4 linked regions of the Homo sapiens genome follow. The protein of the gene in region 4 purifies or fractionates together with the protein of the main gene of each other region. This does not show direct contact. Each region holds a gene or a part of one and is shown on either strand. Other genes may lie near its edges.

What was found.
Region 1: the proteins of COL8A2 (region 4) and P4HA2 purify together in Homo sapiens (affinity purification with mass spectrometry; 3 studies listed by BioGRID and IntAct, with this or other methods). This does not show direct contact.
Region 2: the proteins of COL8A2 (region 4) and P3H1 purify together in Homo sapiens (affinity purification with mass spectrometry; 2 studies listed by BioGRID and IntAct, with this or other methods). This does not show direct contact.
Region 3: the proteins of COL8A2 (region 4) and COLGALT2 purify together in Homo sapiens (affinity purification with mass spectrometry; 3 studies listed by BioGRID and IntAct, with this or other methods). This does not show direct contact.

Annotation. Positions count from the first base shown.
Region 1 is NC_000005.10:132,210,840-132,217,870, forward strand, and holds part of P4HA2 (prolyl 4-hydroxylase subunit alpha-2 isoform 2 precursor), read right to left. Parts: exon of another isoform or gene 7,010-7,031; coding exon 6,913-7,009; intron 6,510-6,912; coding exon 6,358-6,509; intron 3,215-6,357; coding exon 3,077-3,214; intron 1-3,076. UniProt on the Homo sapiens protein: Catalyzes the post-translational formation of 4-hydroxyproline in -Xaa-Pro-Gly- sequences in collagens and other proteins.
Region 2 is NC_000001.11:42,745,855-42,750,040, reverse strand, and holds the end of P3H1 (prolyl 3-hydroxylase 1 isoform 1 precursor), read left to right. Parts: intron 1-1,723; coding exon 1,724-1,841; intron 1,842-2,242; coding exon 2,243-2,318; intron 2,319-2,628; coding exon 2,629-2,769; coding exon of another isoform or gene 2,770-3,129; exon of another isoform or gene 3,130-3,188; coding exon 3,189-3,344; 3' UTR 3,345-3,667; downstream 3,668-4,186. UniProt on the Homo sapiens protein: Basement membrane-associated chondroitin sulfate proteoglycan (CSPG). Has prolyl 3-hydroxylase activity catalyzing the post-translational formation of 3-hydroxyproline in -Xaa-Pro-Gly- sequences in collagens, especially types IV and V.
Region 3 is NC_000001.11:184,034,722-184,042,307, forward strand, and holds the start of COLGALT2 (procollagen galactosyltransferase 2), read right to left. Parts: upstream 3,008-7,586; 5' UTR 2,637-3,007; coding exon 2,374-2,636; intron 1-2,373. UniProt on the Homo sapiens protein: Beta-galactosyltransferase that transfers beta-galactose to hydroxylysine residues of collagen.
Region 4 is NC_000001.11:36,115,196-36,122,226, reverse strand, and holds part of COL8A2 (collagen alpha-2(VIII) chain isoform 1 precursor), read left to right. Parts: intron 1-6,474; 5' UTR 6,475-6,519; intron 6,520-7,031. UniProt on the Homo sapiens protein: Macromolecular component of the subendothelium. Major component of the Descemet's membrane (basement membrane) of corneal endothelial cells. Also a component of the endothelia of blood vessels.

The sequences.
Region 1 (7,031 bases), on a different chromosome or scaffold from region 4:
GACCACAGAGAAGAAGATGTCTGGTGGGCAGTTTGCCATATGAGTCTAGAGGATGGAAAAATTAGCTGAATATAAAAAACATAAATTTAGGTGGCAACCAAGCCATGGGTGAGGAAAATAGCTTGCAGGAACTCTGAGGAAAGAATGGAGAAGATGACTAAGGCCAGAGCTCCAGGGAGCACCTACCCAGAAAGAACAGACAATGAATAACCCTGAGAATGAACTAAAGATAGGAGAAACAGAGGGAGCGGGAGTGGTGTGAGAGACACCAAGGGAGGCCAAGAGCCAAGGTTGCAGTGCCAGCTTTGGCTGTTAAGTGGCAGGGACCTTGCTGAGTATCAGTTCAGTGGGTCTTATGACCAAAGGTCATCTGCTGTAGAGGGAGTGCTGGAAAGTGACCATGAAGATAGTTTCAAGCCAATATGAAGAAGCAGCTATAGGGAGATGCAGGATTTAGGGTGAGCTCAAGATGGGAAAGACTATGTGTGTGGTTCCTCAGAGAATAATGAGAAAGCAGATACCATGGAGGGGAAGTGGGGGCTGTGACTCTCCCTGGAAAGCAAGGAAGACTCCCCACAGCCCCATTAACAGCAACCTGGGCATGGCTGACACAAAAGAACTCAGAGAAGGCTCTTTCTGCCTGGAATGAAACCACTACACAGTAGGCTAAATGCTTCAGAGACCAGGGTCTGCTAACCCCGGTGGCTCAGGAACCAATAACGAGGAATAGGAAGTTGGGGACAGTAAACACAAGATGAAGTCCCTAGGTAGGCCAGGGACTGGGGGGCTCCTGGAGCCCCTTTTCCTTCTCCACAGGTCTCCTCTGGCTCTGCAGGCCCAGGAACCTACATTGCTGGGGCAGAGTAACATAGCTGACTGAGCTGGGGCTCTGGAGCTGAACTAAACTAGGTTTGTGTTGGCCTCACTAGGGCGCCAACCAGCTGTGTGACTATAGACAAGTTACCATATCTAAGTCTCAGTCCCCTTATCTCTAAATAAAGATAATATCATCAATTTTAAAGAGCTTGTGGCAAGAATTCAATAAGATGACATATGAAGATGTCTCCTATGCTCCCCAGGATGCTAATGACCAGTAGCTATTATCAACATGTCTCCCAGATGCCAAGAATGCTAAGAATGGCTCCCTGGCACTCAGCATCCTCCCCAGAGCCAACTCGAATGTCTACTCCCTGGAGAGCATTTGGGAGAGTGACAGCTGAGCTGAGTGCTGATAGGCAATCAGACATGGAGTAGCCTAGCTGACATGGGTAAAGGTATTCCTATAGAGGGGTTGAGACAAAAGAGCTGAGTGATAGGGAAAGCTGAGTACAATGGGCAAGGAAGCCAGGAAAATGGAGTCATGCAGGACCCCAAAGACCACACACAGGAGGAGTTTGGGTTTAGCTTTGGAAATTAAGCACAGTAATCAGGAACTCATGTGAACAAATGTGTGCTTAAGACCACATGGAGGATGGTCTTAAGCAGTAAGCTGGAGGTAGGAGACAAGTCAGAATGGTATTTTGATAATCAAATTGAGAAAAAAGTAGCTGTGAGGCTGGAGTCAGGGGATAAGCACGGAAGACATGAGAGAAGGAGGTAGAATCCATAGGCCTTAGGCTTCTGGCTTAGGCAGCCAGAGGATGGAGGTCCTTTTTGCTGAGATAGAAGGATGAGGGGGAAGGTAAAGTGTTTACAAGGAGATGAGGATTTCAGTTCAGGACACATGAAGTTCGAGAAGTCCATGGGACATTCAAGTACAGATGTCCCAAAGGCATCCGTCTACACTGGTTAGAAGCTCGGGAGACAAGCCTTGGCAAGAAACACAGATCTGGATGTCATCCACCTCAGGTGATGGAAATGGCTGTGCTCACCTGGGGAAGGTGCTCAGGGAGAAGATGAGGTAAGGATGGAGTCCTAGGGAGTAATTCCTTTCTGCCCCATAACCCTATTCAGGACACTCATGGGTTTGCTGAGTGAACGTGAGAGGTCAACGCCAGGGTATGGTTCCCTCCTCCAAGCAACCAATCTCAAGGCTACAGAGTGAACAGATCTTGCAGGTGCCCTGAACTGCCCTCTCTCTAATGGAGTCTAAAGGGGGCAGCTGAGGTTCTGGAGCTGGAATAAGCTGGGTCTGCATGAGCCTCACACAGTGAATCGCTGGGGTTACTTGTCTCCAGCAGCCCTCAAAACATCTTCTTATAAACACTAACACTGGGAAGTCAGTGGGAGAGGGGCCACTTGAGAGAAAATGACCAGAGAGGCTAAAAGAGAAGCAGATATCAGTATGCCAGAATTCAAAGGAGGAGAGAACATCACAAAGAATGAGGCAATCTATCTGTCAAATGCTGCTGGGAAGTTAAAGAACATTATGTGTGAACCTTGTTCGCTGGGTTTACCAGCCAAGCGGCCACTGATGACCTTGTAAGAACAGCATCAGTGACAGTGGGGAAAAAGGCCAGATACTGTGAGTTCAGGAGTATATGGGAACCAGGAAAATGGACAGAGTGTAGATTACTCTATCCAGTAGCCTAACCAGGAGGGGAGAAGAGATGAATCAGCAGCAAAGACTCGAAAGACTCTCAGATACCGAGGGAGGCAAGTGTTAAGATGAGCAAGAATAGAGCCTATATGGGAGCTCAAGGGTAGAACCCAGAGAGGTGGAGACAGAATGTATAGGAGCAGAGACTGTAACTAAGAGGACTCAAGACAGGGGGATAGTAAGCCCAGATCAGCCTTAGATGAAAAGACATTGGAGGGTGGGAGACAAGAAGCAGGTCTGAATGCAGATCTGTGTGGTGCTCTGGGGACAGACGTGGAGGGGGTTCCTGAGCAGCAACTTTGGCTTTCTCTGAGATGCAAGAGGAGAGGGCCTTGGCTAATACATGGAGGGAGGTGGCAGGGCAGGGGCTGAGGGAGAAACCTGTCATGGGAGAGGGAGTCCAGCACAAACTGGTGAGCCAAGAGGTGCACCAGAGGTGCACCCGAGGTTAAAGGCCACAAGTTGGTGGTGGCTCCAACCTGTCCCGCCACTAAAGAGACACATGCGGGACAGGCAACGCCTGGAGTGGTGAGTTACCTGGAAGTTCCCCTCTGGAAATTGTGCCTGGGTCCAGCCTGTATGTGTCCTGAAGTCTCATCAGGGCTTTGGCAGCTCCTATCTCGTCCTCATCAGTGGGGAAGAACTGCCGCTGCACAGAGAGGTTGGCGATAAAACCTTCCAAATGAGAGTCAGAACAAGAGATTACCCTTGATCCAGGGGCAGAATTCCACTTGGGACCAGAGAGGCAGCCACAAAGAGGGTCTCTGGCTAGTGAAATTTCCCCGCCCCCTCCCTCAAAGGCTGTTGCCCCCTTCCACCAGGAAGTTGTCCCTGATGACTCCAGTCTATGGGGACTTTTCCTTTCTTACTCCTCACCATACCTACTGCCTGTGTTGCTCTTTGGAACTAAGTAGAAGCAGCCCCCCATATTGGTTAATATTTAGGAGTCCAGAAGTCTTGGCTCCAAATCATTCAGTCAGAGCTGGTGGAGACAGAAGAAACAGAGGATAGAGAGGGTAACTGAGAAGAGCACGGGAGAGGACTCAGGAAGAACTGTCAACCACTCAGTGGAAAATAAATCCCATGGAAAACCTTGATCCAGGGTAATTGGGCTAGTCAGGTAAACACAGACTTCCAGCACACATTTCAAGTTGAGGAGTCCAAGGGACAATGACAGTTAACTAATGAAGCCGAGCTGGCCACTCATTACTGACCACTGGCACTTATCATCCAGAAAGGTGATGATGAAAGTCCTGGAAGTCATCCCCCTCCCCCTAGGTTGACAGCTGAAGGACCACCTAGACAGGCCAAGGACCAAGGTGGGGTTGCACCAACCCAGCAAGGTCCGTCCCCTAAGAGACCACGGTGGGCCTGTTCTCCTCTGTACTCCCACCACTCAGACCTTCAATGAGTTCAGGGCATGGGCTCTCCAGTTATGGTGCTCAAGACCACAGCCTGAAGCGTGGGAGAGCTTTTGACCACAGAAGTACTCCAAGGAGGCTTTTCTGGGACTCCAAGCCCTAGCTGTAAAGTAAGATGTGTACCTCCTACAATCCCAGGTGGGAGCCAAGCCTTCCCAGGCTGACTTAGGGCCTTCAATTCTGCCTCTAAGCTGAGAAGTGAGAGGGGAACAACAAGGCCATTCCTTCCCCAACCTCTTCCCAAGAGTAGCTGTATCCACTGCCACCTATGACTTCAGACCTAAACATCCACTTCAGCCATAACTGGGGACAGGGACCAAGAAGCTGTAACCCTGCCTTCCTTGTCTTCATAGCTACATGGTCAGGGACTCTAAAGAGTTTAGAATCTGGTGGGGTGGGAGTAGGGGAACATGCTGCCAGGAAAAGCCACACTGTCAGCATGCCCTGCTCGTTTCAGGGGCAAGAACTCAAAGTCAGAGATGAAAACAACCAATTATTCTCTGGGCCTGCCCTATCTCCTTCCAGGTAATCATAAGGTTTTCCAAAGGAACCAGATGATGGTGGGAGTGTAGGGTGTGGAGAACAAGATTGGAGAGAGGAGGTCATCTGGGTAGGCTTAGTCTCCTGCCGTGCAGGCAGAACAGCCTGTCCCGAGCTGCAGGCCCAGGCGGAGAGGCGGGAGTCTGGGAAAGGCAGCCGTGGTTTCTGGAGGCAGTGAGCTCACTGGGCACAGCTCCAGCCTGGCTGAGCTCACCAATCCCTCTCCAGAGGCCACCCTGCCCCCAGGCCCAACCCAGTCTGGCCACATGGGCTAAAATGTCTCAGCCAGAGAGACAGCTAGTCTGAAGTTAATCAGCACTCACAGCTCAGGGAAAAGAGGCAGTGAAGAGCTGGGTACAATGGCACTGTGCCTATAGTCCCAGCTACTCAGGAGGCTGAGGCAGGAGGATCACGTGAGGCCAGGAGTCCAAGGTTGCAGTGTGCTACAATCGCACCTGTGAATAGCCACTGCACTCCAGTCTAGGCTAATATAGTGAGACCCTGTCCCTTTAAAAAAAAAAAAAAAAAAAAAAAAAAAGGCAGCGGGCATGGTGGCTCACACCTGTAATCCCAGCACTTTGGGAGGTGGAGATGGGTGGATCACGAGGTCAAGAGATCAAGAACATCCTAGCCAACATGGTGAAACCCTGTCTCTACTAAAAATACCAAAAAAAAATTAGCTGGGCATGGTGGCATGTGCCTATAGTCCCAGCTAGTCAGGAGGCTGAGGCAGAAGAATTGCTTGAACCCGGAGGCAGAGGTTGCAGTGAGCCGAGATCCCGCCACTACACTCCAGCCTGGTGACAGAGTGAGACTCAGTCTCAAAAAAAAAAAAAAAAAAAAAAAAAGTCAGTGAGTCCAGGGGACTAAACCCAGGGCTAGGAGTTAGGAGAGCCCACCTCCAGGCCCACCGTACCATCTCTTCTTATTGACAGAAAAGTATTAGGGCATAAAAAGTATTATCACAATAAAAGCACCAAGTATAGTTTAAAGCTTTTAAAAAGTTCACACTCTCATCGGTAATATCACTTCTAGGAACTTACCCTAAAAAAGTAATCAGAAGTATACACCAAGAAATATGTAAAAAGGTGCTGATAATTCAGAAAAAATCCCATATCCAATGACTTGACCCATTTGACAGTATTATCAGTATGACAGATTATCACCATCTGACAGGTAATCACCATCCAGCCATTAAAATCATGTTGCAGAAGAACATTGAATGGCATATAAAGAAGCTGAGAAATTCACAGAATTTTTTCTTCTGTCACAAATCTACCAACAGATATGCTTTGTTTGTAAAACATATGAATAGGAATGAATTTAGATCAGACCTATGCTCCCCAACTTGCCCTGGCCCCACCATCCAGCCCACTTGACACTTGTAAATTCATTGTCCCTCCAAGCAACTGAGTTTGCATGCCCTGGTATGTATGTATAGTTCCATTTTTTAAATGTATATGCATAGGTAGAAAAACTACAATTTTAATAATGCTCACCACTGGGCAACTGGATTAAGAATTATAATTCTCTTGTTTTTGTGTTTTCCGACTTTTCTATAAACATGTATCACTAAAGTATAATTGGAAAAATGTCATTAGCAAAAAATAAGAAAAGACAGACACTAAAAAAAAGACGCTAAAAAAAGAACTGAACATCATTACATGTTAAAAACCAAGGCCAGCCAACTTCCAGGTCCCCACAGAGAAGGGAGAGAGCCATGAGACCAGCAGGGTCCTGTTTCCACAATGTACTTGCCCACCAACACCCAGACCCAAGACAGGCTCAGACACAACAACCCAGGCATGAGCACACAAACATATGGGCTCACTCAAGCACCTGCTCACCGTCCCTCACCTGCAGCTGAGTCCTGCAGGACAAGGTCCTCCAGCGCAGGCCAGTCTGTGTTTAGCCGCTTCACCAGTTTGTAGGCATTCACAGGGTGAGCCAGGTAGCCCTCAGCATCAGCAGCTGACTTGCTAGTCAAGGCTTCCATTTTGTTGGCCCAGCTGTGGAACCAGAGGAAAAGGAAGACTAATGCGTCCACCCACATAGGTCTTGACCTGTGACAATTTTCCTAGTGAGAATTCCCTGGTGCCAGGTTCTGGGGCCCTTTTCATCAAGAGGCAATGAAAAATGAATACAGTAACTCCCCACAGATACTTCTAGCCCCTTAATCTAGATAACAGCTGGGACCCCCAATGTAAGGGAAAAGGTCTTAAATAGAAAATAAACAGTGACTCCTTAGCCCATGTACTTAGCTCCTCTCAAGCACTGGCATGAAGTAACCAGGCCAGCCCCACATCACCCTCTCAAAGGTTTCCTCTTATAGGCACCCTGGATGGCTTCCTTGTTCCTTGAGGGGCAGAAGGGAAGGAAGGCCAACTAAGGATGGTTGGGGACTTAGGACACCTCTTAATCTTGGAAAGCTTGGCTTCCTCCACAAGGATGTACTCTTTCAGAGACTGCACCAGCTCTTTCTCTGCATAAATCAGGTCAGTCATGTGCCCTGCAAGGGAGAGAAGAAAGAC
Region 2 (4,186 bases), 6.6 Mb from region 4:
GATGCATGCCACAGTAGCATGGAGGAAGTTATAGTCAACCTACCTGGGGATCAAGAAGGCTTCCCAGAGGGAAATGGGGTGCAGCCAGAAAGGGGGCCACCCGTCACTTGTCACACAACGCACTTTAATGGGGAAGCTGGTGCTAAACCATTCATAGAGGACCTGCCTCCGGGTTAGGGTTTCATACATAGCTGAGCAGCTCCCTCGCTGCCATCTGTTGAAAGACAGCCCTCAACAGAAGGGCTTGTTAAAAGCAAAAATAATAACAACAACAACAACAACAAAAAGAAGGCTTCCCAGAGGAAGCAATGGCAGTTTTGCAGGATGAATACGATTACGGAGTACTCCGGGTGGTGGGATGGTGTTTGCACAGGAGTGGAGGCATTGTGCAGCCTGGTAGTCAGGGGAACTAAGAAAGGTGCCAAATCCTGGAGAGCTACATTCAAGGGAATTTTTATCCTTTAGCTCAACCATAGCTATGTGGCAGATTCTCTTTTACTAATTGTTAAATACCAAATTTGTGAGAGAGCTTCGTGATTTACAAGTGAGAGTGGCCTGGAGGTTATTCCTCATTCCCTCGCCCACCCACATTCCCTTTTGCATGTCCAAGAAGGGGAGAGGTTCAGCTAGTGCTGCAAGGATCCTATGTGGCCCAGAGCCGGCTCTGTCATACTGGAGCCTCCAGCAGGCCCCTGGCAGTGATGGCCATTGGTACGTGGCACAGATCAGAGGGCTTTCCTCTACCTCAGAATGTTTGGAATTCTGTCACAATCTGGGCACACCCAAAGGGACCAGTCAGACACACAACTGGGTGTGTCACAAGCCCCCGGTGGGAGAGCACAAGCACAGGTGCCAGGAGGCCAGGGAGGCCTCATCAAGCAGTGAAGGACGTGGTGAGGCCTTGACTTTTAAAGGATTCATTTTGCTGCTGTGTGTGTGGAGAGATTTCAAACCAAAAAGGGAAGCTGGTCAGCAATGACCTCTGTGGACAAGGGCAAAGCCCTAAACTCAGGAAGTGGCAGTGGGAGGAGGGAGAAGTGAGGCCCCGGGAAGGTGCAGGAGGTGGATGGACAGGACCTGGTGACTGGCTGGACAAGTGGGAATGGAGAAGGAGGCACCCACCACGACGTGACGGTGCCTACATAGAGCATGCCAAAGGTTTGCGTTGGGGAAAGACGTGGTCTGCCTGGCATTTGACAGTGAGCCCGGTCTGTTCCCTTTCGTGACCTTCTCCCTGCATGGTTTCTCCACCCACCCCACCCCAGAGCCCCACTGAAGTTCATGCTTTCCCTTTGCTAGCCAGCTCTTCTCTGCCCCACTTCCTGCCACTCAGCCCCATCTCCTGCAGTCCTGATGGAGGACTGACCCACTCTGCCCTGCGTCCGTCCCACCTCCTGATCCCTCATTCTCACTTCCCTGGGCCTTTGTATTTTGTAAAGTCCAGCTACAAACCAGGGTTGTGCCATTCTGCCCAGGATCTGCCCTTGGTTGGAGCCCTTCATTCCTGCTTGCCACACCCTGCTCACTTCTGCCAAGAACTGTCCTAGGAAGCCTGCAGACTTGTCCTGACCCCTAGGCTTGTGGCTTAGCCAAAGACACCCCCCTAGTTCATTGGGCATTCCGTAGACTCAAACACATTTTGGGAAGCACCTCCCCTGCCAAGAAGAGAGCTATGCCGTCTCCCGAGGTGCTCCCTTGCTAACATGTGTGACATTGGCCCCAGAGGTCCAGGCAGAGAGGAAGGATGATAGTCATCCAGTCCACGTGGACAACTGCATCCTGAATGCCGAGACCCTCGTGTGTGTCAAAGAGCCCCCAGCCTACACCTTCCGCGACTACAGGTGAGTGCGGGGCAGGTGCAGGGTGAGGAGGTCTGTGCCCTCCTCAGAGGCCCCACAGTGCCCTGCACTCTACTACCCCACCCTAGCACACACACACTGGTTGGGGCTAGCTGTTCCCAGAGTCCAATCCTTTATCCCCAAACCCGCTGGATAAGAAGATAGGCAAAGAGGGAATCATATCGTGGTGTGACAAGAACGGTAGTGTGAGTGGGCACAGGGGACTCTAAGGCGAGGGTGGAGAGTGGAAAGGTGGAGTTTGTACGGCATCAGTATAGGTTCTTAAAGGTTTCCCTCCCACACAAAGCCACCCTCCTGCTGCTGGTTGAGAGCACCTGGAGGTGAAGGCTCAGGGGAAAGGGAGGCAGGGAAGGGCCATGATGAGATGTCTCTGCCTTTCCCAGCGCCATCCTTTACCTAAATGGGGACTTCGATGGCGGAAACTTTTATTTCACTGAACTGGATGCCAAGACCGTGACGGTGAGTGCTCCCTTGTCCTTGTCCCTGGGAGATAAAAAGTCTGTTTTCTACAGCTGATGTTCCCAAAGTGCAGTGGACAAAAATAACCAACTGGGCTTCCCAGTGGGCGGTACCCTTCCCCCATCCAGAGGGGCTTTGAGACGTGTCCATCACTCCTCTAACCAGTCACCCTTTCTCTTTAGTTCTGGTCTTAGGGAAGCCATACTGAAGAGCTGCCCTCGGTCGTGAGCCCTAATGAGCCCATGTCTCTTCTGAGAGTGGATTACAGTCTTTGTCCTGTGCAACCCCCCTCCCTTTCTGTCCCCCTTAGGCAGAGGTGCAGCCTCAGTGTGGAAGAGCCGTGGGATTCTCTTCAGGCACTGAAAACCCACATGGAGTGAAGGCTGTCACCAGGGGGCAGCGCTGTGCCATCGCCCTGTGGTTCACCCTGGACCCTCGACACAGCGAGCGGGTGAGAGCAGCTCGAGCGGGTGAGAGCAGCTGGTGCTGTGGTGACCCGTTCCCAGAGCGCCCTTGGTTTGCCTTTCTCTTCCCCAAATCCCATTGCCAGTGGCTGAGACACGAAAGGAGCACTTGGGACACCAGCTCCAACGCCCTGTCATTATGGTCACATTGCCTTGTCCTCCCTGGGCCTGCTGTGAACGGGATCCAGGTGGGGAAAGAGGTCAAGACAGGGAGCGATGCTGAGTTCTTGGTTCCCTCCTTGGGCCCCACTTCAGCTGTCCTTTTCCAGAGAGTAGGACCTGCTGGGAAGGAGATGAGCCTGGGGCCATTAAGGAACCTTCCTTGTCCCCTGGGAAGTAGCAGCTGAGAGATAGCGAGTGTCTGGAGCGGAGGCCTCTCTGAATGGGCAGGGGTTTGTCCTTGCAGGACAGGGTGCAGGCAGATGACCTGGTGAAGATGCTCTTCAGCCCAGAAGAGATGGACCTCTCCCAGGAGCAGCCCCTGGATGCCCAGCAGGGCCCCCCCGAACCTGCACAAGAGTCTCTCTCAGGCAGTGAATCGAAGCCCAAGGATGAGCTATGACAGCGTCCAGGTCAGACGGATGGGTGACTAGACCCATGGAGAGGAACTCTTCTGCACTCTGAGCTGGCCAGCCCCTCGGGGCTGCAGAGCAGTGAGCCTACATCTGCCACTCAGCCGAGGGGACCCTGCTCACAGCCTTCTACATGGTGCTACTGCTCTTGGAGTGGACATGACCAGACACCGCACCCCCTGGATCTGGCTGAGGGCTCAGGACACAGGCCCAGCCACCCCCAGGGGCCTCCACAGGCCGCTGCATGACAGCGATACAGTACTTAAGTGTCTGTGTAGACAACCAAAGAATAAATGATTCATGGTTTTTTTTACTTGGTTTGTTCAGACAATGGAAATTTGCCCATTCTGTCCCAGAGGTCTCACTTGATAAAAATTGCTCTAGGCAGGACCCAGTGGCAGGTGTGGGACGAGAAGTCCTGGCTTGGCACCTGGCTCAACCACTTGCTGTGCAGCCACAGGCCAGACACTTAACCTTCAGCACCTCGGGGTTGTCATCTGTATAATGGGGATCATAGTCCTCCCTCTGCTCACCTTCTGGGGCAGCTGTATGGCCCAGATGCAATATCGGATGTGACAACACTTTTGTAAACGGTAAAGCTCTGGGTGAATGGTTGGGATTATTGTTAATCCTCTTCTGGCAGGGAGCGGCGGTCAGCAGTGCTCTGGCACGTCACCCCTATGTCAGCCACATGCTTCCTGCTCTGCCGTCTGGCCTCAGTGTCCTGTATCTCGGCCTCCCTGTGCAGGAAGACACACTCTAGGAAACACTGGAAATGGAGATTCAGCTCCTCTGGCTACATCCCTGGTACTAGGTCCAGAGCTTTTACTGT
Region 3 (7,586 bases), about 150 Mb from region 4:
AAGTTCTTAGAAGAACCACGAGCTCTTATTATTATGTGTGGAATTTATAAATAAATGTAATTTTGAGTAAGTCAATCACTTTAAACACATTTCTTCTTCTGGGAAATAGAGATAATTTTATTTCTTCACAGAATGGCAGTAAGAATCAAATGAGTTAACAGTGCATGGAAGTTATTTCCAAAGGTTCTTTACAGCTCCTTTGTGAGCTGAAAAGAACTATTTAGAAACTGGGATTTGTATTATTGTTACCTAAAGAATTACACAATGTTTTAAAGACAGAACCAAAATTTTTCAAAGAAGAGTCTTCAATGACTGACGCAAGCATGGCCTTGCACTTCTTGCTTAACCTGCCAATGCTGGACATAAAAGACAACAGATTTCAAAGGTCTATGCAGAACTGGAATTCTCTCATCTAAGTAAGACACCAGTGTCCATACCATCTGGAACTTACAGGGAACTTAGGATGTACATTGATGCTGGTTGATCCTAATTATATTGCAAAATCTATGGAATTCAAGAGCCATAAAGAATTTTTGAAATCATTTATTCCAACTCCCTCGTTTTATTGATGAGGCAACTGATGCCTATGGATCCCAAGCAACCAGCCCCAAATCACATATCAAACTAGTAATAAACAACTCAAGTCTCCTAATTTGTAGATTATAGGCTTATGTAAATTTTGTTTATATCATGTTTCCTGCCTTTTTAGGGTGGCCTTGGGTTCAAATTCCAGTTTCACCATTTATTAATTCTGTCACTTTAAGTGACTTACTGAACTGATGCAAGTCTGTCTCTTTCTTTGCAAAATAAACATCATAGCATCCTCTTAAAAGTTTACTGTATGATAAAAAGAGGTAATGTCTCTAAATCAGGTAGCAAAGCATGTGCCTGACACCTGCTTCACCACTCACCAACTTCTTATGGTAAATACTGTAACGTTTTAAAAAACTAAATCATGCATAAAGATCAAAACCATATTTTAAAATATCTCTTAAAAAAAACACAACAACTAAGGTAACTGATATGTGTGAATTTCTTTTGGTACCGAAGTGGTTAAAAAAAAATCCTTCCTTCTGGTTTAAAGCCTGGCTGTCCCAGTGCTCTCTTTCCACATAATATGCCCTTCTCCGCCAGGCGGTCACGTATGGCAGGGTATATAGTAAAGCAGTGTACAGCACAGAGCTGTACTATATCACATGTTTGCTTTCGCACCTTTGCACCTCTCCCACCAGGTACTCTGAGGCTGCCAATTCTAGCTGCTGCTTTTACTCCTCTTCCTCTCTTTGCCCAACCGCTGCTTTAAGGATGTGTCTCGCCTGAGAACAGCTCCCTTTATCAACACAAGACAGAAATTGCTCCAGAGTGACCTGGGCTCTGTCTTCCTCAGGGGGCCAGAGTCTTCTTGTCCGAGTACCTACCTGACAGCACATCTCCCCTGGCCAGCATCCACCTCCTTGTCCTCCACAACCCACTCAGCGGCTAACCTGGCCACCAACTAACTTCTCGCCCTCGGATCCTCGCGTTTATAAAAGGTGCGAGACGACCAAGTTCTACAAGGTGGGGCGGGCAGGCACCCGCACTTATCCCCTGGCCCTCCCCGCAGCAGACACAGGGACCAGGTCCAAGCTTCTTTCCTCCGGGGACAAAACTTGGCTGTTTATCTTTCCCAGGGCATCTTCGTCTCTCCCCGGGACGTGGAACCCCGATGCACCGGCAGGGACAGCCCGGAGCGCTCGCAGGAGACCAGGCCCACGGTGGTGCCATGGTTGGGCACACTCCGCGGGCTCCGCCCAATCTCCACCCCTAGGTCCAGGTCCCCCTAGGAGAGCTAGGAGCACATTTCCAGCCTGGAGCAGGAGCCCGGCACCGGAAAGTCAGAGCAGCGCACTGCGGCGCCCCAGCCACTGCGGAGCCCCTGGCCAACCGCAGTTACGTTCCATCTGTCGTATCTACATGGGAATACGGCGACAGGCACCCTATCCCCTCACGTCAGGGCTAGCAGTATGAGGTGGGGAAAGAGGAAACCTCGAGAGTTAAAAGCGAGGGAACTGAAAGTCCCCTTGAGGGGTGTCCCCCATGCCCCTTGTGGGACAAAGCCCCAATTCGCAGGCTACCCTCCAGAGCTCCAGCGGTCCGGTTCTCCCCATCAGCACCCTCTGCGCACACTGACCCGCGCGTCCCTCCGCAGCCTGACCGCCCGATCCGCCAGCCACCGGCGCGGGCAGCGAGGGGGTGTGTGCGCCAGATTTTCCGCGTGCCCCCCCGCCCCTCCAGCGGCTCCCTCGCCCTGCAGCTGCTGCTCCGGGCGCTGTCCGCGCTGGGCAGGCCGCCCCCGCGTCCCGCCGCGGCGGCCCGGGGCCCGTGCGCGCTCACCAGATGGCCATCCTGCTCTTGGGGTAGTCCAGCCGCTCCAGGCAGCCGAGGAAGTGCGGCAGCGTGTGCGCCGCGTTGCGGGCGAGGACCGCCACGAGCACCGTGGGGCTCTGCAGGGGCGACTCCGGGAAAACCACCGGCTCCTCTCCGTCGTCCTCCGAGTCCCGCTCGGCGACGAAGCGCGCTCGGCAGCCTTCGCGGAGCAGGGCTGAGGAGAGGAGCAGTAGCGACCAGGCGAGGGTGGCAGCAGGGCGCGCAGCCATGTTCCGGGCCGAGGCGGGCGGCGGGGAAGTCCTGGCGCGAGCGCCCGGCTGGGCTGCCTGAGGGCGGCGGCGGCTGCCGGGGAGCAAGGGGCTGCGAGGGGCGGCCGGGGGATGCGGCTTGCCGCGGCCGGCCGGCTCACACACTGGCCTCGGCGGCTGCGGTTCCCAGGACCCTCCCGCCGCCGCTGCACCGCCCAGGCCCCAGTGCGGGTGCGCAGCGTACCTGCAGCCGCTGGCGCTCCCCTGCGCCTCGGGCTCGCAGACAGTAGTGGCCGAGGGGCTGTGTGCCCTGAGTCCTGAGGAAAGTTCCTCTAGTCCAGGTTCCGCTCGTACAGCTGAGGTCTGTGGCCTTCCCTAGAGCCGCGAGTTGTGGCCCTGTCTGCCAATGAGCCTGTGAGTGTGTGTGTGTGTGTGTGTGTGTGTGTGTGTGTGTGTACATAACGGTACAACCCCAAGAAAATTTATTCTGCTTTTGCAAACCGCAGACTGAAGCCCTTCACAGTGATGCAATGTATCCAGTTTTCATAATGCACCTATTGACTGAGTAGAGTTCTAAAATGAAAAGTCTCCCCAACTATTCACGATTATGACAAACACTTGTTTAACCACCGCAAAGGCAGCATGTCGCATTTTCTTATATACTCAACTTCTGAAATTCATTCTTGACTGAGTAGACACCTAATAACACAAAGTTTGAAGACTTGGAGAATTTTGGAGCCAGATCAGACCCCGCAAAATAAAAGAAAGCCCTTGGGAGACACTGTCCTGAAGCCTCACTCTACTGTGAACCCAGTAAGCCTCCTCACAGGAGGGCTGTGAAAGAATAAATTCACTTAGCTGGTTTTCTTTTTCCGTAATAAGCCAATATGATAGAGTAACAAAGAGGGAAAATTCGCGCATGTTGGAGAGCAGAGAAGAGATAAGGAAGAAAAGAAGGGGTGAAGGAAGAACACAATTAGCACATAAAATGAAACTGCTGGCATACACTGCTAAAGGAGATTTACTTTTTTTTTTTTTTTTTTTTTGAGACAGGGCCTCACTCTGTTGCCGGGGCTGGAGTGCAGAGGCACGATCACAATTCACTGCAGCCTCGACCTCCTGGGCTCAAGCAATCCTCCCACCTCAGCCTCCCGAGTAGCTGGGACCACAGGTGTCCATCACCACGCCTAGCTAATTTTTTTTTTTTTTTTTTTTTTTGTAGAGACGGGTTTTCACCATTTTGCCCAGGCTGGTCTGGAACTCCTGGGCTCAAGTGATCTGCCCAACTCGGCCTCCCAAAGTGTTACGATTACAGGCATCAGCCACCATGCTCGGCTGGATATTTAGTTTTGAAGATATATTGTGTAGCCTTTGATAGATAAGTATGGAGGGTGTTTTGGTGCCAGTGCACATTCATGATCTCCAATCCCAACTCACCCTCAGGTCTGTCCCATAGTCTTTTTATTAGTTGTTATCAATCCTTCTCAGCAACTATTAGAAGTCTTCCCTACTGTCTTTTGAAGTATATCACCTCCTTCATCCAGCTCCCCCAACACCACTGTCTCCAACTAGCATCCCTACCAAGACCTTTCTTACTTGCAGGTGCCTCCTCACGACAGGGTCTTTGATCACAGACTAGAAAGGGAGAGGTCTCCCTTTCTAGCCCATGATTTTTCTCTATCATTCCACTCTCTACTGAATCTTCAACTGATCTCTATCAACTCCTTTCTCTCAAGCTAAATACTTGGTCAGTCTTCTCTTATCCGTTAAAAAAAAAAGAAAGAAAAGCTTTAAAAAAAAGTCCTGTGTCTTCTTCTAGTCATCCCTTTGCTTGACCAAGCTCCTTGGAAGAGAGATCTATACTTGTATTCTCCACTTCTTCATCTCCCATCTTTCCCACCACAGTGCAGTAAGGCGTCAGCCCTCCCCACTGTTCTGCAAAACCAACAGATGGCCTCAGCATTGGCAGATTCAGTAAACTCTTCCGTTCTCACCTTCCTGGACTTCGATTACATAATCTCCCATCCTAGATCTCCTCTGATACTACTTGTCTCTGAGCCAAGCCCCTTCACTGTGTGCCTCCCTATAGTGTGCTAGTCTTCCCACTCCATATGGTCTCCTGTGGTTATATCCTCAAAATCTATGTCTTCTGCTCTAATCTCTTCTCTAATCTTCATATTTTTTTATCGAATGGCCTACAGACATTTCCTTCCCCTCCATCCATTTTCAGGAATTGTTCCCACTTTCAAGGGGCTCACAGTCTTGTAGGGAAGACTGAGAGTTAAACATCTGTTAGAAGTACTGTAACAGATGTACCAGCTACAGTGAAGGGATAGAGGAAGATGTGGTCATTTCCACAAGGGAGGTAGTGATGGGACTGTTAGAAAGGTCCAGACAATCTCCATGTTGTTCTGTCTTTCTTGTTTCCCTTTCTTGAACTATGTCCCACTCATCTTTCAATACTAAAATCCGCACTCCTTAGCCAAACTTGGTTTGATAGTTATCATTTGTTCACTTTACTGCAAACAGAGGGAGTTTAAAGCTAGGCAACCACATTTCTGTCTTATTTTCCTTCTGTTACTGATATGGTCTGCCTATGTCCTCACCCAAATCTCACATCGAATTATAGCTCCCATAATCCCCACGTGTCGTGGGACGTAATTGAATCATGGGGGCAGGTTTTTCCCATGCTAGTCTCGTGATAGTGAATAAGCCTCACAAGATCTGATGGTTTTATAAAGGGCAGTTCCCCTGCACATGCTCCCTTGCCTGCCGCCATGTAAGGTGTGTCTTTGCTCCTCCTTTGCCTTCTGCCATGATTGTGAGGCCTCCCCAGCTATGTGGAACTGTGAGTCCACTAAACTTCTTTTTCTTTATAAATTACCCAATCTCAGCTATGTCTTTATTCACAGCGTGAGGACAGACTAATACAGTTACCTAAAGTCAACAGCTTATCTGAGTCTATTTTTTCAAAGAAAGGTGAAGCATCTAAACCTGTATGGTCTCTAATGACATTATAATGAAATCGGCTCCATGGAGTTCTCTTAAAATAACTACAACCTGCTCTGCTCTGTAGATGAAATCAAGGGTTTCCCAGCCACATAACCTACAAAACACCTATTTAAAACTTTTAATTGAGTGCTCATTTAGTGACTGAGAATATTAAGGTAATAACAGGGTATGCAACAGTAGAAGATCATTGTAAATATGGTTGGGAGGCAGTGGAGGGGAAGCCTGGGAAAAATTAAGTCCCCATCTTACTAACAGATTTGTTTCATAAGTTCTTCAGAAATCAGTAATGTGAATTTGGATGTTTCCCCCCCGCATAGGATTGATGTTATAAGACAGTTAATTTGAAAAAAAAAACTAATTTAAAAATAAAAGCCAATTATATTTTAAAATATTCATTGCTTATAATGCTCTTTCCATGGAAAATCGGCTGAATGGAAAGTCAGGGTTGTACACACATATCTCTTTGTCTCCACTGCCAGTAGACTGTTCCAATTGATTCTACATAAAGTTAGAAGTAAGCACTTTCTCTCATATCCCCTCCCCATACTGTTCCAGCACAGGGGACTTCCATCTGGGACAACAAAACCTCTTGGACTGTCACCCTTAGTGCAATGTGGTGGGGACAGGGCCTATGAGGTGGCCAGAGGACTTCTTGCAGGAAAGCTTCTCAAGATGTCTGTGGCTCCAGCAGCCCAGAAGAGGAGGAAATAAATGCCTCTGGGGCAGCTGTGATAGGCTTGAAAGAGCAACTGACACTTGGAGCTGAATTTTCATTTCACTGGTGTCACTTATTCTCTTTGTGACCTTGGAAACTTGACCTCTTTGAACATCAATTCCTTCCTAGGTAAAAAAGTTTTAAATGCTTGCCTCATTTTTTCATTCAACAAACATTTATGAAATTGCTAAATGCCAATCATTTGAGTGTTGAATATTTGAATGCTTCTCCCTTGGAAAAACAGGGAGAAAGTGGCCAGCCCCTCGTAAGTCCTGCTGGGCCATAGTTGGCAGAAAGAGTCTCTTGGCTGAATTATCCAGGCTTCTTTCTTCTGTACTGAAATATCTTTCTTTCACTACCTGGTTTGTTTTACTCGCTTTTCTGATCCATCCTAAAATCCTACAATGTAAAATGTACTTGAATTGACAATTCTGCCAATTTCAACATGAAAATCCTTGAGAGAGGAGCATTAGATGATATCTTTTTAATTCAATCAGATTTTTAAATCTTATCACCTAAACTGAAATGGCCTATAAGAAGTTTTGATAAAGGGAACTGAATGGGATCCTAATTTGAAGCATGGGTCTCTTTGGTGACAAAGCAAGTTTTATGGATTTCTGATACGTAGGCCCGAGGACTCTGGGTCCTAGGAAGGGAATTAATATTAAGGGAGAAAAAGAGCAGTGACTGAGGTGGGAAAGGCTAAAATTAAACTACGTCAGTGTCAAAGTTTTGTCTATGCTCTGGCTGCATCCAAGAGCTATAGAATAGTCACTACGGAGGAATGTTTTCCAATTCAAAACAAGTTTATACAAATGTAAACTACACTTCTACGTCTCATTTAAGAATAGATGCATCCCTTAAATTATATTAACTCATTCCTTCAAACACTTGCTCAATGCCTACTCTGTGCCAAGATATAGTTGCTGGAAATGCATGAATAAATAAGATGTGTCATATAAATGCACAAATGCTATAAGTCATTTTATGTCTTATGATGGAAAAAGGAGCATAAGTAAGGAAGTGGGGAAGTGGAGATAGCTAGGAAATGTTTAATTAAAGAGATGTCTTTGAATTGAGCATTGAAAAATAAGTAGCATGCATGGACAGGAAGAATTAATATTTTTAAAATGGCCATACTACCCAAAGCAATTTACAGATTCAATGCTATTCCTAAACTACCATTGAGATTTTTCACAGAACTAGAAAAAAACTATTTTAAAATTCATATGGAACAAAAAAGA
Region 4 (7,031 bases):
GTACTGGTCTCCAGAGTTGTTTTGCCTGCAGAGAGGTGAGGAGTAGTTCCAGGTCACACATGCAATGGGGGCACAGCACCTAGATCTTCCGATCAGTGTCCATTCCGCCTCTCTGGTTGGACCCTGGGAGTGGACTGGGGAGGACCTGGCCGTGCTTCTATTCAGATTCTTGGAAAGTTCTGAATTGGAGGCTGACTATCCCCATGCAGCCTGGATGGGCTGGGATTCCTGGCTTTTGAAGGGGAAGAAGAGGTCACATGTGGGGGTGGCGGAGGGCTAGTGCCTCATGGGGAGAGCCAGGTGGCACTGCTGGCCCAGCTCATGGATGGGGTTATGGAGACTCAGAGGGGAACTCACCTGAGGTCACACGGCAGCCAGAGGCAGAATCGAAACAGAGGCCAGGATCCCAGGCCCAGGTGCCCTTCCTCACAAAGGCTGCCCTCCCTCAAAGGACATGGAGCAGAGGGAACCTTACTGGGTTTTGTGATTTCTTTCTTTCTTTTTTTTTTAATTTTTTTTGAGACAGAGTCTGGCTCTTGTCACCCAGGCTGGAGTGCAGTGGCACGATCTTGGCTCACTGCAACCTCCACCTCCCAGGTTGAAAGATTCTCCTACCTCAGCCTCCCAAGTACCTGGGATTATAGGCGTCCACCACCATGCCCGGCTAATTTTTTGTATTTTTAGTAGAGATGGGGCCAGGCTGCTCTTGCACACCTGACCTCAGGTGATCCGCCCGCCTTGGCCTCCCAAAGTGCTGTGATTACAGGGGTGAGCCACTGTGCCTGGCCAATAAGAAGGAATTAGAACAGCAACTTTTTTTTTTTTTTTTTTTTTTTTTGAGACAGAGTCTGGCTCTGTCGCCCAGGCTGGAGTGTAGTGGCATGGTCTCGGCTCACTGCAACCTCCGCCTCCCAGGTTCAAGCCATTCTTCTGCTTCAGACTCCTGAGTAGCTGGGACTACAGGTGAGCACCACCATGCCCAGCTAATTTTTGTATTTTTAGTAGAGATGGAGTTTCACTGTATCGGCCAGGCTGGTCTCAAACTCCTGATCTCATGATCTACCCGCCTTGGCCTCCCAAAGTGCTAGGATTATAGGAGTGAGCCACCGTGCCATGCCTGGTCTTTTTTTTTTTTATTAAGACGGAGTCTCACTCTGTCGCCCAGGCTGGAGTGCAGTGGCGCGATCTTGGCTCACTGCAACCTCCACCTCCTGGATTCAAGCGATTCTCCTGCCTCACCCTCCTGAGTAGCTGGGATTACAGGTGTGCACCACCAGGCCCGGCTAATTTTTGTATTTTTAGTAGAGACAAGGTTTCACCATGTTGGCCAGGCTGGTCTTGAACTCCTGACTTCAAGTGAGCCACCCACCTTGGCCTTCCAAAGTGCTGGGATTATAGGTGTTAGCCACCATGCCTGGCCTTTCTTCCTTCCTTCCTTCCTTCCTTCCTCTCTCTCTCTCTATTTTTTTTTTTTTTTTTGAGACGGAGTCTCGCTCTGTCGCCCAGGCTGGGGTGCAATGGCATGATCTCGGCTCACTGCATCCTCTGCCTCCCGGGTTCAAGTGATTCTCTTGCCTCAGCCTCCTGAGTAGCTGGGATTACAGGCACACGCTGCCAAGCCTGGCTAATTTTTATATTTTTAGTAGAGATGGGGTTTCACCACGTTGGTCAGGCTGTTCTCGAACTCCTGACCTTGTGATCTGCCCGCCTCGGCCTCCCAAAGTGCTGGGGTTACAGGCGTGAGCCATTGTGCCCGTCCTCTTTTTATTTATTTTTTTGAGATGGAGTCTCTGTCACCCAGGCTGGAGTGCAGTGGTGCAATCTTGGCTCACTGCAACCTCCACCTCCTGGGTTTGAGCAATTCTCCTGCTTCAGCCTCCCTAGTAGCTGGGATTACAGATGTGTACCATCACTTCTGCTAATTTTTGTATTTTTAGTAGAGACGGGGTTTCGCCATGTTGGTCAGGCTGTTCTTGAACTCCTGACCTCAAGTGATCCGCCCGCCTGAGCCTCCCAAAAGGAATGGAATCTCAATTGTCGTACGTCTACAGTGTGTGGGGCATCTTCATAGCACAAGGGGTTTTTTGTGGAGGGGGAAAGAGGAATAGCAGGCATGAGAAGGTCAGACCCAGAGAGAGCCCAGAACCGTGAGGGCTGGGATGGTATTTTCTATTATCTAGGAACCCTTGGTGGTCCCTGGTGGGTCCTGCAAGGGAGGGAAGCCTCTGTGAAGAGGCGGGGCCTGAGCTGGGGGTCCTGGCCTCTGGTCTCAATTCTGCCACTGGCTGCTGTGTGACCTCAGGAGAGTTTTCCTCTGAGTCTGTGTAACCCCATCCATGAGCTGGGCCAGCAGTGCCAGCCTGCCTCTCCTTACAACCTGTGGTGAGGAGAAACCTAGATTGCGGGGTAGAGGGGTCAGTTATCTCCTGAAAGATCCCAGGTGGCCAACTCTTTGGTCTCCACACCCGTCCAGTGTCCACAGCCCCCACCACCCGGAAGTTCTCCTTTCTGGCTAGCCTCCTTCCTTCCCACTGTGCTGGCTGCCACCAAGCTCTGCGTGGGCACTCCAGGCCACGCTCCCTGACAGGCGACCACGGCTCTGCTCATGGCAAGCATTCTTTTCATAGTTCCTGGAGCACAGCAAATCCAGCTGCTTAGCCAGGAATGCAGAGCCCCCTCCTGCAGCGGCAGCAGGGGCTGGATTGGGGTTGGAACCCCTGGGGGTCAGGCAGGAGGGACTGAGGGGGTGCGGGGGACTGACCTTCACCCCAGTACACACCATGCCTCAGCTTGGGGGAGCCAGAAGGTTGTCCTCATCTTTGGACTTGCTTAGCTTGGGGCCAAGCTCTGGGACCATCCTTCCCTGGCTGGGGGAACTTGGGCAAATGGTGAACTTGGGTTCACCACTGTGCCAGGCCAGTGATTATATTTATAATAGGGCATATTTATTTAGGATTCCTATATGCCAAGCACTGCTCTGAGTCCGTTACACAAAATTAACTTGTTTAATCCTCACAAATGCTCTGTGAAGCTGAGCTGGGCAGCTTTATATGGGCTGGGCAGAGCTGGATTCAGATTCCACCCCTTTCACTTCCTAGCCTGGTTACCTTGGAGAATGGATGTGACCTCTCTGGGACCTAGCACTCTTCCTCAGTAAAATGGGACAGCAGTTCCAGCCTTCCAGGGTTACGGGAGTAAATAATGCCTGGAGTTCCCATTTCATTGATGAAGAAGCTGAGGCCCAGGTGGAGGTCTCATGCTAGTAAGAGCTAGGGCTGAGATAAGGATGCATGCAGCTGGGCTCCAGAGAGGTCCTCTTAATCCGACATGATTTTTAAAGCAAGACTCTTAGTCCAGAGCCTGCCCGTAGTAGGAGCTCAGAAATGGGAAATTTTCCCATGAGCCCCATCTCTGGCAGGAGCCAATTGTTCACCTCATGGCCATCAGCACCTCAGTCTGGAAAGTTGGAATGGGGAAGCGGGCCTGAGGCCCTGGCCAGCCTCCCTGGAACCCTGCAGCTCTCAGAAGCTGGTTGGGGGTGGGGGGCGGGGGGTGCAGACTGTCCCACCCACATCTGGTCTGGGATTTAGCCAACAGCGGCAGGCTCTGTGCAAAGGGGAGACGTCGCCAGGGGAGGGGCTCCAGGAGGGGATTAGGGAAGGCAGCTGGGGGTGAAGGTTAAGAACAGAGTCCCATTGAAGTCGGCTCAGGCACCGCCCTGGCTTACCCACTCACCCCAGCTTCCTATTTGTAAGACAGAGGGGGCCTTGGCCCACTGGAGTGGACTCCTGAGGCACCTGATAGTAGCTGCCCACTCTGCTCCCAGCCTTGCCTGTCCCTGGTGCCATCTAGGTTGAGGCAGCACAGGTGGGGTAGAGCAGGAGTAGGGGGCAGGGCCCGTGGCTGAGGTCTTCAGGGAGCCCAGGTATACAGGGCTTTAGCCACCTGGGGGCCAGGCAGAGCTGGGTTCAGATCCCACCTCCTTCACTTCCTAGCCTGGTTTCCTTAGAGAATGGATGTGACCTCTCTGGGACCCAGTGCTCCTCCTCAGTAAAATGGGACAGCAGTTCCAACCTTCCAGGGTTACAGGAGCCAATAGTGCCAGGAGTGTGCCTAGTGCTATGTCCAGTGCATACAATGAACTTGGGATGCAGACACCGTTGTTCTTAACGGTTAACATGGGGGAAGGGAATGGGGAAGCAGCTTTAGGTAGGATCCGCATCTCTGATCCTGATATTCAAGGCATTTCTCAGTCTGGCCCCAGCCAGGTCTCCTCTCCTCAAATCATCTGTATGGTGAAAAGCCTAGGCTTTGGAGCCTGCAGCCAGGGTTCAAATTCAGGTTCTACTTTTTTTTTTTTTTTTTAAGAGATGGGGGTATCACTATGTTGCCCAGGCTGGACTCAAACTCCTGAACTCAAGTGATTCTCCTGCCTTGGCCTCCCAAAGTGCTGGGATTACAGGTGTGAGCCACTGTGCCCAGCTCCAGGCTCTACTTTTCATGAGCTGTGTGATGTTGGGCCAGTTACTTATCCTCTCTGTCCCTTAGTTTTCTCATCTGTAAAAAGGGAAGATGAAATACTTTTGTCACTGGGTTGTTGTGAGGATTAAATGAGATAATTCATGAGAACACCCAGAACGGTACCTGGCACACAGTGGGTACACAATGAATATTAGCTATGATTAGTTAGTTCATGTGTTTGTCTATTTTATTTGGATTCTCTCCATCCCCTGAATATATTCAGGGCTTTTACACTCTCACACATGCTGTTGCCTTGGCCCAGGACTGATCACCTCTCTCCACTACCAACCAGTTAAATCCATGTTCATCCTTCAAAGCCCAGAGCCAGCTTAAGTCATTTCTTCTCCCAGAGTCTCATGGTGCAGGGACGGGGCTGGGGCCGGAGAAGCTGGGGCTAAGCTGAGCTGGAGGGTCCTCCTACCTGGGCTCCATCATCCAGGCTGTGGCCCCATGACCCAGCTCTGGGGTCATAGTGTTCAGAGTGGCAGGATGGAGGCAGGGCTCAGCTGAGTTGGAGAGAAGGCCTAGTTGCTGCTGGCTCCAGCATCTGGCTGCTTGTGCAGCTACAGACAGGACTGGATGTCAGAGTTTCCATGGGAGCAGGCAGAGGCAAGCAAGCAGCTGGGGGAGAGAGTGACGCGGCCTGCAGGCCTCCCTGCCAGGTGGGCTGGCTGGGCATCCCCTCCCCATCTACCCCGGAGTCATGTCTGGGTCTGGACTTTAGCTCTGGATCCTCTGCGTACAGCTATGTGACCTGGACTACGACTTTTGTTAGATCCTGGCACCACACCTGATTGAGGCAGAAATGGGGACCTAGCCATCCAGGGCTCTGACCACATCACTTCCCCCACTAAATAACCCTCCATGGCTCCCCATTGCTCTCCAGAGAAATGCAAGCATGGCATTCAGATTTCCTCACCATGTTGCCCCAGCCTCCCCATCCCACAGCACTTCTGGACCTTCCCTGTATATTACTACCTGAAATTCCTTCTATCACCTCATCTGCCTTTCAGACTCCGACTCATCCTTCAGGACCCAGCTGCAGTGTCCCTTTCTCCATGAAGCCTTCAGGGGAAGCTTAAGTCGGCAGTATTCCCTGCTTCATGCTCCCACAGCCCAGAGATCTTTGCCAATTGTGTGATGACCGCTTGTCTGATGCCCCCAGCCCTTCAGGGCAAGGCAGGGCAGGGTATGGGGTTGAACCATTTCTGTGGTCCATGACCCAGGCTTGGGTCCTCCACATAGTAGAAGCTTCCCCAGCAGGGATCCTAACCCAAAGTAGGGGCCACCCCAAACCAGAGCTGACATATGGGAGGGACTTCTCCAGCATGGGAACCCGGGACACAGAAGGGGCATCCTCAGCCTGGGCCCTAGGACAGTAGGAACTCCTTGAATCCAGGGCCAGGCACCCCGTGGGTATTGCTAAGTGTGCACTGAATGAATGGAGTTGTGGAGTATGGGGCACATACCCTGCTTCCCTCAGGGGAGGAGGGAACTGAGAAGAGAGACTGAGACTGGGGCCGGGTTTCCAGCAGGGGGTTCTGGTAAGAAGCCCGGGGCAGGCACTGGTGTGGCTGTGGGTTAGGGCAGGAGGCTTCCCAGGCTCCTGATGTCATCGTCTCACTGTTCCTCCTTTTTTTTTTTTTTGAGACAGAGTCTTGCCCTGTCTCAGGAGTGCAGTGGTGCAATCATAGCTTACTGCAGTCTTGAACTCCTGGGCTCAAGCAATACCACCCACCTCAGCCTCCTAAGTAGCTGGGACTATAGGCGTGCACCATCATGCCCAGCTAATTTTTTAAAATTTTTAGTACAGACAATGTCTCCCTATGTTGCCCAGGCTGGTCTCAAACTCCTGGGCTCAAGCAGTCTTCCCACCTTAGCCTCCCAAAGTGCTGGGATTACAAGCTTGAGCCACTGCCCCATAGCCTCACTGTTTCTCTTGTTCATCCTCAGGCCCTGCCTCTGCTGGAACCTTCCCAGGCCCCTCCGACCTGAAAGGTAAGCTAGGTTTGGGGATGGGGTTTTCTGATATCTCAGGCCAGATGAGGCCTGTGTTCATTGCTGTCTAACCTCACTCCCTCCTGCTGCACCGGAAGCCCCTCCCAGGCCCAGAGAGTCCTGTGAGCCACCCCTTTTGTATGTGACCTCAGCTCCCTGCAGCCCGGGCTTTAAAACCCTGGCCCAACTCGGAAGCAGCTTTTTCTCATTTGTGAACTATTTCGCCTGGCTCCTTGGCGGGGCCGTGTTTGCTTGGCCCAGCCTGGGTGCAGTGGCCTGGCTGTGCTCCCGCCAGGCCCCCTCCCTGCCCAGCCCAGCCCCTCCTGCTGCCGCTGCTGCCGCCACCACGCAGGGTAGCCGCAGAGGCCCAGGAATCTTGGCAGGCGTGGGGAGGCAGCGGGTGGCGGGTGGCGCTCCGGAAAAGGCTGCAAATGCGAACCAGAAGGTGAGGGATTGGAGGCTGAGGAGGCCCCGCCTGCCCCTGCCTGAGGCCTGGGGGTGGCTGGGTCTGT